2 separate regions of the Homo sapiens genome follow, and region 2 is linked to region 1. Evidence: fine-mapped expression QTL. A gene starts in region 1. The other region holds a variant in brackets. All regions are shown on one strand. Distances are between the middles of the regions.

The links. PIP is the estimated chance that this variant, and not a neighbour inherited with it, causes the effect. A credible set is the group of variants that fine-mapping cannot tell apart.
Region 2: its variant is the best candidate, but not a certain one, in a credible set for the expression of MED4 in rectum (CEDAR, PIP 0.61).

The regions. Positions count from the first base shown.
Region 1 is chr13:48,093,120-48,097,519 of GRCh38, forward strand. MED4 (mediator complex subunit 4) reads right to left here and starts at 1,985. Exons shown (of 7, transcript NM_014166.4): 1 at 1,835-1,985. The coding sequence starts at 1,959. RefSeq lists a silencer at 1,194-1,488.
Region 2 is chr13:47,236,817-47,241,216 of GRCh38, forward strand. No RefSeq gene overlaps it. Among named protein-coding and RNA genes, the nearest start is that of HTR2A, 340 kb to the left of the region's middle. The variant C/CT (reference allele first, on the strand shown) is at 2,697.

The DNA.
Region 1 (4,400 bases):
AATAAAATTTCCATAGCGGTTAGAGCCTACATTATTAGCAGTAATACACTTTTCAGGTAAACAGAATTAACAGGCTGGTGTGGAAAACTCAAGATTCCTATCAACATGGTTCTGTGGAACAATGAGTTTTGAGTTACAAATGGGTTAAAAAAAACGTTTAGCCTACAACCTGTGTTTCAACTTTTTAAGACTATCTCCTTGCATTACATTTTATAAACTAATAAATATCCCGAAAGGCTATATAATCAGGTTAATAGAAAAAAAAAGATCCTAAGTTATAAATCCACTATTTTTAAAGAGGCTAAATCTAAAAATATGTAAGGTATATTCGTGATTTTTCTTCTCATTTTCATAAATGCAAGCCAGACACAAATTACATTCAGAGACTGACAAACTTCACAGATCACAGAATCAGTACACATAACTACCTCTGAGTGAACACATGAGACCTTTCTGGAAGCCAGTCACACCACCAGAGCAGCTTCATTCTGTGAAGAAGTTCCAATGATCCGCCCGCCTTGGCCTCCCAAAGTGCTCGGATTATAGGCGTGAGCCACCACACCCGGCCCTAATACAGTTTATTTTAAACAGTGGATCAAACACATAAGCCATTTAATTTCTGCTGTCTAGGTGTTTTCGGGTTTTCTTCCATCATTAAATATTGTGCTGACCTGGTAACTTGGTAGCAATACGATGGCAAGGACTAAATTTACACCAAAAATAAAGTGCTGATTATATCACGTATATTTTAAAATACAACAGGTAAGATTTATTCTAAAGCTGTCAAAGAATGTTGGCTATAGAAAAAGTGACATTTGAGCTGGATTCTGAAGGATATATGAATCATTCACCAAATCGGGAGTAGACTGGGAATGGCACTGAAGATGTGGAAGTCTGACTAAAGAATTTGAACTTTACCTCACTGGACAACGCAAACCTACCAATGAGGTAGCTTTTATATAATTTTTCTGCAGAAAAGTGATATAAGATGCCTTTTAAAACTGGTATCGGCCAATATAAAAGGATAAAGTGCAGAAGCATGAGGCAATTAAAACTGTTTGGGAGGCTACATTTAAGAAGGAGTTATGAACAGCGGGGTTGGAACGAGAGGGCAAATTGGAGCGACACTTTAGGAGGTAGAACCAAGATAATTTACCATCCAAGTCAATGGGAGGGAGTCAAGGAAGGCTTCAACTTGAAAGACTTATCATGAAAGGTGACAGAATATGAAGAACGACATCTAATTTCATCTCCTATCTCTGACACACAACCATCCTAAACAACTTGCAACTCCACCAAGCCAGGCTTTTTGCACTTGCTGTTCCATCTATCTGTGCTGCCTAGTGAGTTTGGCGAGCTCATGCTTCCCAAGCAGCACTTTCTTCAGAGGGCCTGCCCTGACTACAACCAAAAAAGGTGCCTAGTCCCTGTGCTCCAGTACCCCGCAGCGCAGCCCTCTAATAAAAACAGGCCCCAAGCCAGTTTACACATCTGTCTCTCTCTCGACAGCTGGCATCCAGTCTACCCTTCACTACCGTCTCCCCAATGCTGAGCCCCCAAGGAGCGTTCCATAAATGTTAAGTGGCTGGCCGCGGACGAAGAGGCTCAGACCGCGCGAGTTCTTATCATTACTAAAATTCCCTCTAACGGGAAAAACCGCCGCCCAGAGTGCCAGAGGGCTGCGGACCCCACGTCCATGACCCTCATGCACCCGAAACTCCCGAGCTGGCCCTCCCCGCCGAACCCCGAGAACGAGCACAAACGCAGGGCCGGCCGGCTCCGGGGTCAGTCCCCCGGCCCAGCTCCAGCCCGGCTCTCAGGCTCGCCGCATTACCTAGACAGGACCTCCAAGTCCTCAAGCGCAGACAGCAGCCGCTCTCGTGTGCTGTTACCACCCGCCACTCCCAAACCGCCTCCCAGCCGCTCCTTCTCCTTCTCACCACTCGAAGACGCAGCCATTTTCCCCAGAGTCCCGCCACCGGCGCACGCGCAGAGCGAGCTGACGCAGGTGCGTGGCGAGAAGGCGGGCTCGGAAGGCGGAAGAGTCACCCAGGAGAGGAAAAAGAGGCCTGGCGAGAGCGCCCCCTTTGGGCCTGGAGGCGCACTGCGGACACCGGCGCCATCTGTTGGGCCGGCGAGGGCTTTCTGGTCCAAACCCTGGGAGCGACAGCTGAACTGAGAACAGTGGGGGCAACGCAGTCTGATTCTCCTGGGCCTAATGGTTTTTTTTCTTTCTTTCTTTCTTTTTTTTTTTTTGAGACGAGTCTCGCTCTGTTGCCCAGACTGGAGTGCATCGCCGCGGATGTCTTGGCTCACTGCAAGTTCCGCCTCCTGGGTTCACGCCATTTTTCCTGCCTCAGCCTCCCGAGTAGCTGGGACTACAGGCGACCGCCACCACGCCCGGCTAATTTTTTGTATTTTTAGTAGAGACGGGGTTTCACCTTGTTAGCCAGGATGGTCTCAATCTCCTGACCTCGTGATCCGCCTGCCTCAGCCTCCCAAAGTGGTGGAATTACAGGCGTGAGCCACCGCACCCGGCCCACCTTAACCATTTTTAAGTGGATAGTTCAGTGGCATTAAATACATTCATACTGTTGAGCAACTATCCATCTCCAAAACCTTTTATCTTGTAAAACAAACTCTGTACTCACTAAATGCTAACTCCTTATCCCTCCCTTCTCCAGGCCCTGGCAACCACCATTCTACTTTCCATTGCTGTAAGTTTGGCTACTCTAGGTACCTCATATAAGCAGAATCATACAGTATTTGTCTTTTTGTGTCTGGCTTATGTCACTCAGCATTATGTCCTCCAGGTTCATCCATGATGTAGCATGTGCTGGAATATCTTTCCTTTTTAAGACTAATATTCCATTGTATGCATATGGCACCTTTTGTTCATCCATTCATCTGACGATGGACAGTTAGGTTACTTCCACATTGCTATAATCCATCTTTATAGCCATACATCTTCCAACAAAATGTTTTGCTCATTACTCAGGTTAATTATTGAACTGAAGGAACCAATACAGTACATAAGTAGTAGTTAATTAACATAGTTTAAGTCATTGATGTACCACACATTCCAAACCAGAACTGGTTGTCAAAGGCAAAAATACGTCTTAGCCTACTTTTCCTAGGGATAACAATGTAGTAGGGATCACTCTCTACCAGAAAAAAGCAAAGTTACAAGCCTATTGGGAATGAGGATTCCATATTGCTATTATAAAAGATGGTCTGGGACTGCCTCACTCCCATGAGGTAGTAGTACCTGTAGTCCTTTCATTTCAGGGTCTCATCCTCTACTCTGTCTTTTTGGAGGTGCTAAACCTGACTCCTGGGCACCCAGAGTTGACAAGTCTTTTAGAAATTCATGTTAAATAAATTCACTCATAGCAACTGCTGCGTAATCTAGAATGCTGATTTACTCACTTACGATGAAAAGTAATAGTGCCAAACATATCTTTTTCCCATAGACAAAACTATATGAGAAGCCATATTATCACAGGATGTTGCTTGTTAAACTTGGATCAGAACAAACAAGGATAGATTAAAAATTAATGACACAATCATGAGGCTTTGTGTCTCCACAGTGTAGGGATATTTGTGTTCAAGAGATTGGATTATTTGTGTTCATAGGTCAGGGTACCTTTTCCTCTAGACAGTGCAAGAGATCCTTGTCACCTTTTGTTTTCTGACCGTTCCCTGCATCTGCTGTTGGCTAACCCTTTTTTGTTAATGCAGTCAATTCTCAGGCAATGGGCTAAAGTAGATTGAAGCTTTGTTCATTACACTTGCATTCTAAACATGCCTCTCAGTACTCTAGTCAATCATTTCTTATGTTAAGTTTCCAGGGTGCCAAACTTCTGCGGTATGTGTTGGTTTTGTTTACTCAACTCTCACGGGTCATATTGAGCCATGACTCTGGTAGGAGGAGAGAGAACATTATATTAGTGTAAACATAAAAATTCTAGAAGGATTCTAATTAGTTAAAAATGACCAATTATAGTCCTACTTTGCAGACACTGAGGATCAGTGTGTGGAGCATGTATGTGTATTGTGAACTCCTGACCTCCTCAGATTTATTGCAAATTCATATGCATATTAAACAGTTTCTATAGACTGATAAGTAATAGCATCTTTCACAGATATACTGTCTTGCAAATTGTACAAATCCAGGCGTGATAAACAAATATGAATTATTTTATATAGTATTACTGAATTCATGGTAATTTGGAGTTAGGTACATATTTTCTCAATCTGTAGATTCAAAAAGGACACTACTTTCTCATGAAATTTTATTGACATGGTGGGCAGTGTTCTAAGCACTTCAAAAATATTAACTTGTTTAATTTTCCTAACACTCCTATGAGGTAAGTACTGTTACTATCCCTATGTTACAG
Region 2 (4,400 bases), 860 kb before region 1:
GAACCTCTCAAAACTATAGATAACCTTATCAGACTAATTAGTTCCATCCATGCATTCATTCATTCATTCATTCATTCACTTACTCATTCTCTCAAATGCTCCTTCATTCTTTCAACAAAAAAATTTTTTAGAGCTTGACATAATTTCTACCTTCAAGGAGTTTACATTTAATGAGGGCAACCAGCAGCTAACTAGATGATTATAATAGTGTAAACACTGACCCTTGAACACAGTAGTATGGTGACAAACTGCCCTGGTTTGCCCAGGACTCCTGAGTTTTCTGGGATATGGGACTTTCATTTTTTTCAAAAATGGTATAGTTCCTGGCAAACTGGGACACTTAATCACCTTAGCTGTGGGAGTATAGAAGAGGCAACCCATGACCCTGCTTGAAAAGGCAAAAGAACATTTCCCAGAAGAGGTGGTTCTAATGCTGGAATTTCAGACCAGGCAGGTGGGAGGTTCAATTCCTTAACAGCCTAGCCCAGTGGTGTCCACCTCATATTCTCATATTCTCCAGGGATCTCAGGAAGAAGGAGGCTCATGATGCTGGACTGGACATTTCTTCCTCCTCTTAAACACACACACACACACACACACACACACACACAGAGAGAGAGAGAGAGAGAGAGAGAGAAAACAAGAACATAGGCACAAGCAAGCAGGCAAGCAGCTTTGGCCTTTCTGAATGAAATCCAGCTTTTTTGAAAATTATTTTTAAATTCACAGTGAACCATCTCATACATTTTACTTCTTTCTGTAATCAAAGCTTGAGCCATATTTCTGGGCATCTAAAGTAGGATGCATTTGGAATTTTAAATCTGCTGTATTTAACTCTGCAAATATCAAAGAATGAAGAATCTTTATGAGAGGAAAAGGGCAGCTAAGCACTGTAGCAGCCTTCTCATTTGCTGGGTGACACTGAGTCACTGACGATGGTTCCTAGGGTATGGCAGAGTCACTACAGAGGCTCTCATGAGTGATCCAGGCAGGAGCACAGGCTGGAGCCACTGCTGAGGGCAGATGTTCTCTGTTCCAGAGGCAGAACACATCTCTGGAGGCTTGCTATGTAAGGGTGGCACAGAGCTGCCAGAAAACATAATAATTGCTGTGATTATGATTATAAGTGCCGTTTAATTGCTGTTGCATCATGCCAAATATCTTGGGAAGAAAAAAGTAGGGCCTTATGAATAAATGATCACTTAAAATATTTAAATAGATGATTATAATATACGACTTTAGAATACTTGACTTTACCCTGAAGCTGAATGTTTCCTGCAAAGTATGGCAAATTCATGGTCAGCAGTAAACAGTTTAGATGTCTAGTAACTTGAAATACATACAGTGCACCCTTGCTTAAGAAAACTTGTGTACATCTGAGTAATGGATAAATCAGACAGTAATTATGTAACATGGGGACTTAGGATAATTATTTCAGGAATGTATTGGGAAATATGTTGTATTGAAAAATGATCTGCTTTTAATTGTCCATTTCCAAAACAAAAAACAATCTTGAAGTTTACATAAAACTAAGCTTGGTTGAGAATGAAAGTTGTTTCCTCAATTCCCAAATCTCCCTTCTATGTAGTAAAATACAAGGCTAATATAACATAGTAGAAGAGTTTTACTATAAACCATGGTTTATCATAAGACATAACCCACCCCACATAAGTAGAAAGCCCTTTGCTGAGAGGAAAAGCAGAGGAATTTAGTGACGATGTCACTAGAATGGGAATGTTGCCGCCAGAGTCCCTGAAAGCAGACCTAGCACCTCGTATCTCCTGGGCCTCGAGCAATCAAATCCCAACAAAAAACCCAGCTAGGTTGAGAGGGAATGAAAGAACATTCTGGCTGTTGCTCTGTTTCTGGGATCAAAATGGTGCAAAAGCAATGAAGCTGTGAGTAGAGGGAGTTTTCTTGATAGACGGACCTGTAATAATAGTCTACAGTCTTCCATAGACTGCATACCAGGAATGTGGATCCATGTAGGGGAATAGGAAGGGACCCAAGGTCAGAAGACAAAGGCCGCAGGGCAGGGTTTGGCAAACTGTGGTCTGCAGGCCAACTCCTGTTACAGCCTACCTTTTTACAGCCCTGAGATATAATTTTAAAAAAATTTTAAAGGACTATAGAAAAGAAGAAGATGAAGGTGACAGAAGAGAGGGAAGAAAATGAGAGGAAAAGGAGGAAGGAACAGGAGGAGGAGAACAATAGTAAACAACAAGAAAAGTATGTGACAGAGACTGCATGTGATCTACGAAGTCTAAGGTATTTACTTTCTATCCCTGTATAGAAAAAGTTTGCTAAGCCCTGTTATAGAGCGCAGGGACCTCATATCCACGGCAAATTACAGTCACTGTAGACTTCAGCATCAGGAGCCAGGACAAGGCCAAAAGTCCAAGTGGGAGTAGGAACATCCAGGTGGATACCAGCACAGAGTCCAGAGCAAACCAGGCACACTACTAAAGAGACCAGGAAAGCAGGAAGGAAACCTATGCCACAGAAGCTTCTCCTCATAAATCCATGAGGATAAATAAGGTTCATCCTGAATCCAGACATGTCTCAGAAAAGGGGAGAAGGAAGGAAAACTCTGATGGGAAAAGAGGAATGATTGGGAGTTTGAACTTTGAACTGAGTATCACATGTGGCTGAGTTAACCTGAAAAACAAAGATAGTGTAAGCTTAAGGTTCTTCTT[C/CT]TTTTTTTTTGTATTTTAAGAGATGGGCCCTCACTCTGTTGCCCAGGACTGTCTTGAACCTATGACTTCAGGGCTGGTCTCGAGCCCCTCACCTCAGTCTCCCAAAGTGCTAGTATCACAGGCCTGAGCCACTGTGCCCAGCCCTAGCATATTTATCTTTTTTTTTTTTTTTTTTTTGGACACAGGGTTTCACTCTGTTGCCCAAGCCAGAATGCAGTGGTGTGATCATAGCTCACTGCAGCCTTGAACTCCTGGACTCAAATGATTCTCCTGCCTGAGCCTCCCAAGTAGCTAGGACTACAGGCATGTGCCACCATACCTGGCTAATTTTCTAATTTTTTGTAGAAACAGGGTCTTCCTGTGTTGCCCAGGCTGGTCCTGAACTCCTGGGCTCAAGCAATCCTCCTGCCTCAGCCTCCCAAACTTGGGATTTCAGGCATGAGCCACTGCACTTGGCCAGGCTTCTTTTTCTGTTGTTGTTGTTTTTTTAAATTATTATACTTTAAGTTCTGGGATATGTGTGCAGAACATGCATGTTTGTTACATAGGTATACATGTGCCATGGTGGCTTGCTGCACCCATCAACCCGTCATCTACATTAAGTATTTCTCCTAATGCTATCCCTCCCCTAGCCCTCCATCCCCCCAAGCAGGACCTGGTGTGTGATGTTCCCCTCCCTGTGTCCATGTGTTCTCATTGTTCAACTCCCACTTATGAGTGAGAACATGTGGTGTTTGGTTTTCTGTTCCTGTGTTAGTTTGCTGAGAATGATGGTTTCAAGCTTCATCCATGTCCTTGCAAAGGACATGAACTCATCTTTTTTATGGCTTCATAGTATTCCATGGAATATATGTGCCACATTTTCTTTGTCCAATATGTCACTGGTCATCATTCGGGTTGGTTCCAAGTCTTTGCTATTGCGAACAGTGCTGCAATAAACATACGTGTGTGTGTGTCTTAGTAGAATGATTTATAATCCTTTGGTCATATACCCAGTAATGGGATTGCCGGCTCAAATGGTATTTCTAGTTCTAGAACCTTGAGGAATTGCCACACTGTCTTCCGCAATGGTTGAACAGGCTTCTTAATTTGGGCCTCTTACCTTGTTTTCTGGGATGTTAGAATGGAACTCTGGGAGAATGGTTTCAGTCAGGATGAGCAAGTCCTGGAGATCTGTTGTGCTGCATGGTGACAATAATTAATGTATTGTGTGATTGGAAATTGCTAAGAGCTTAGATCTGAAATGTTCTCATCACAAAAACTAAGTATGTGAGATGATGGATGCATTAATTAGCTTGATTTAAACATTTCACAATGTATACATACATCAAAATATTTTTGGGCTGGGTGCAGTGGTCCACGTCTGTAAACCAGCCCTTTGGGAGGCTGAGGCAGGTGGATCACCTGAGGTCAGGAGTTGGAGACCACCCTGGCCAACATGGTGAAACCCCGTCTCTACTAAAAATACAAAAAATTAGCCAGGCATGATAGCAAGTACCTGTAATCCCAACTACTCAGGAGGCTGAGGCAGGAGAATCACTTGAACCCGGAAGGCGGAGGTTGCAGTGAGCCAAGATCATGCCACTGCACTCCAGCCTGGGCAGCAAGAGTGAAACTTCTGTCTCAAAAAATAAAATAAAATAAATTATATATATATATATATATATATATATACACACACACACTTTTATATATATATACACA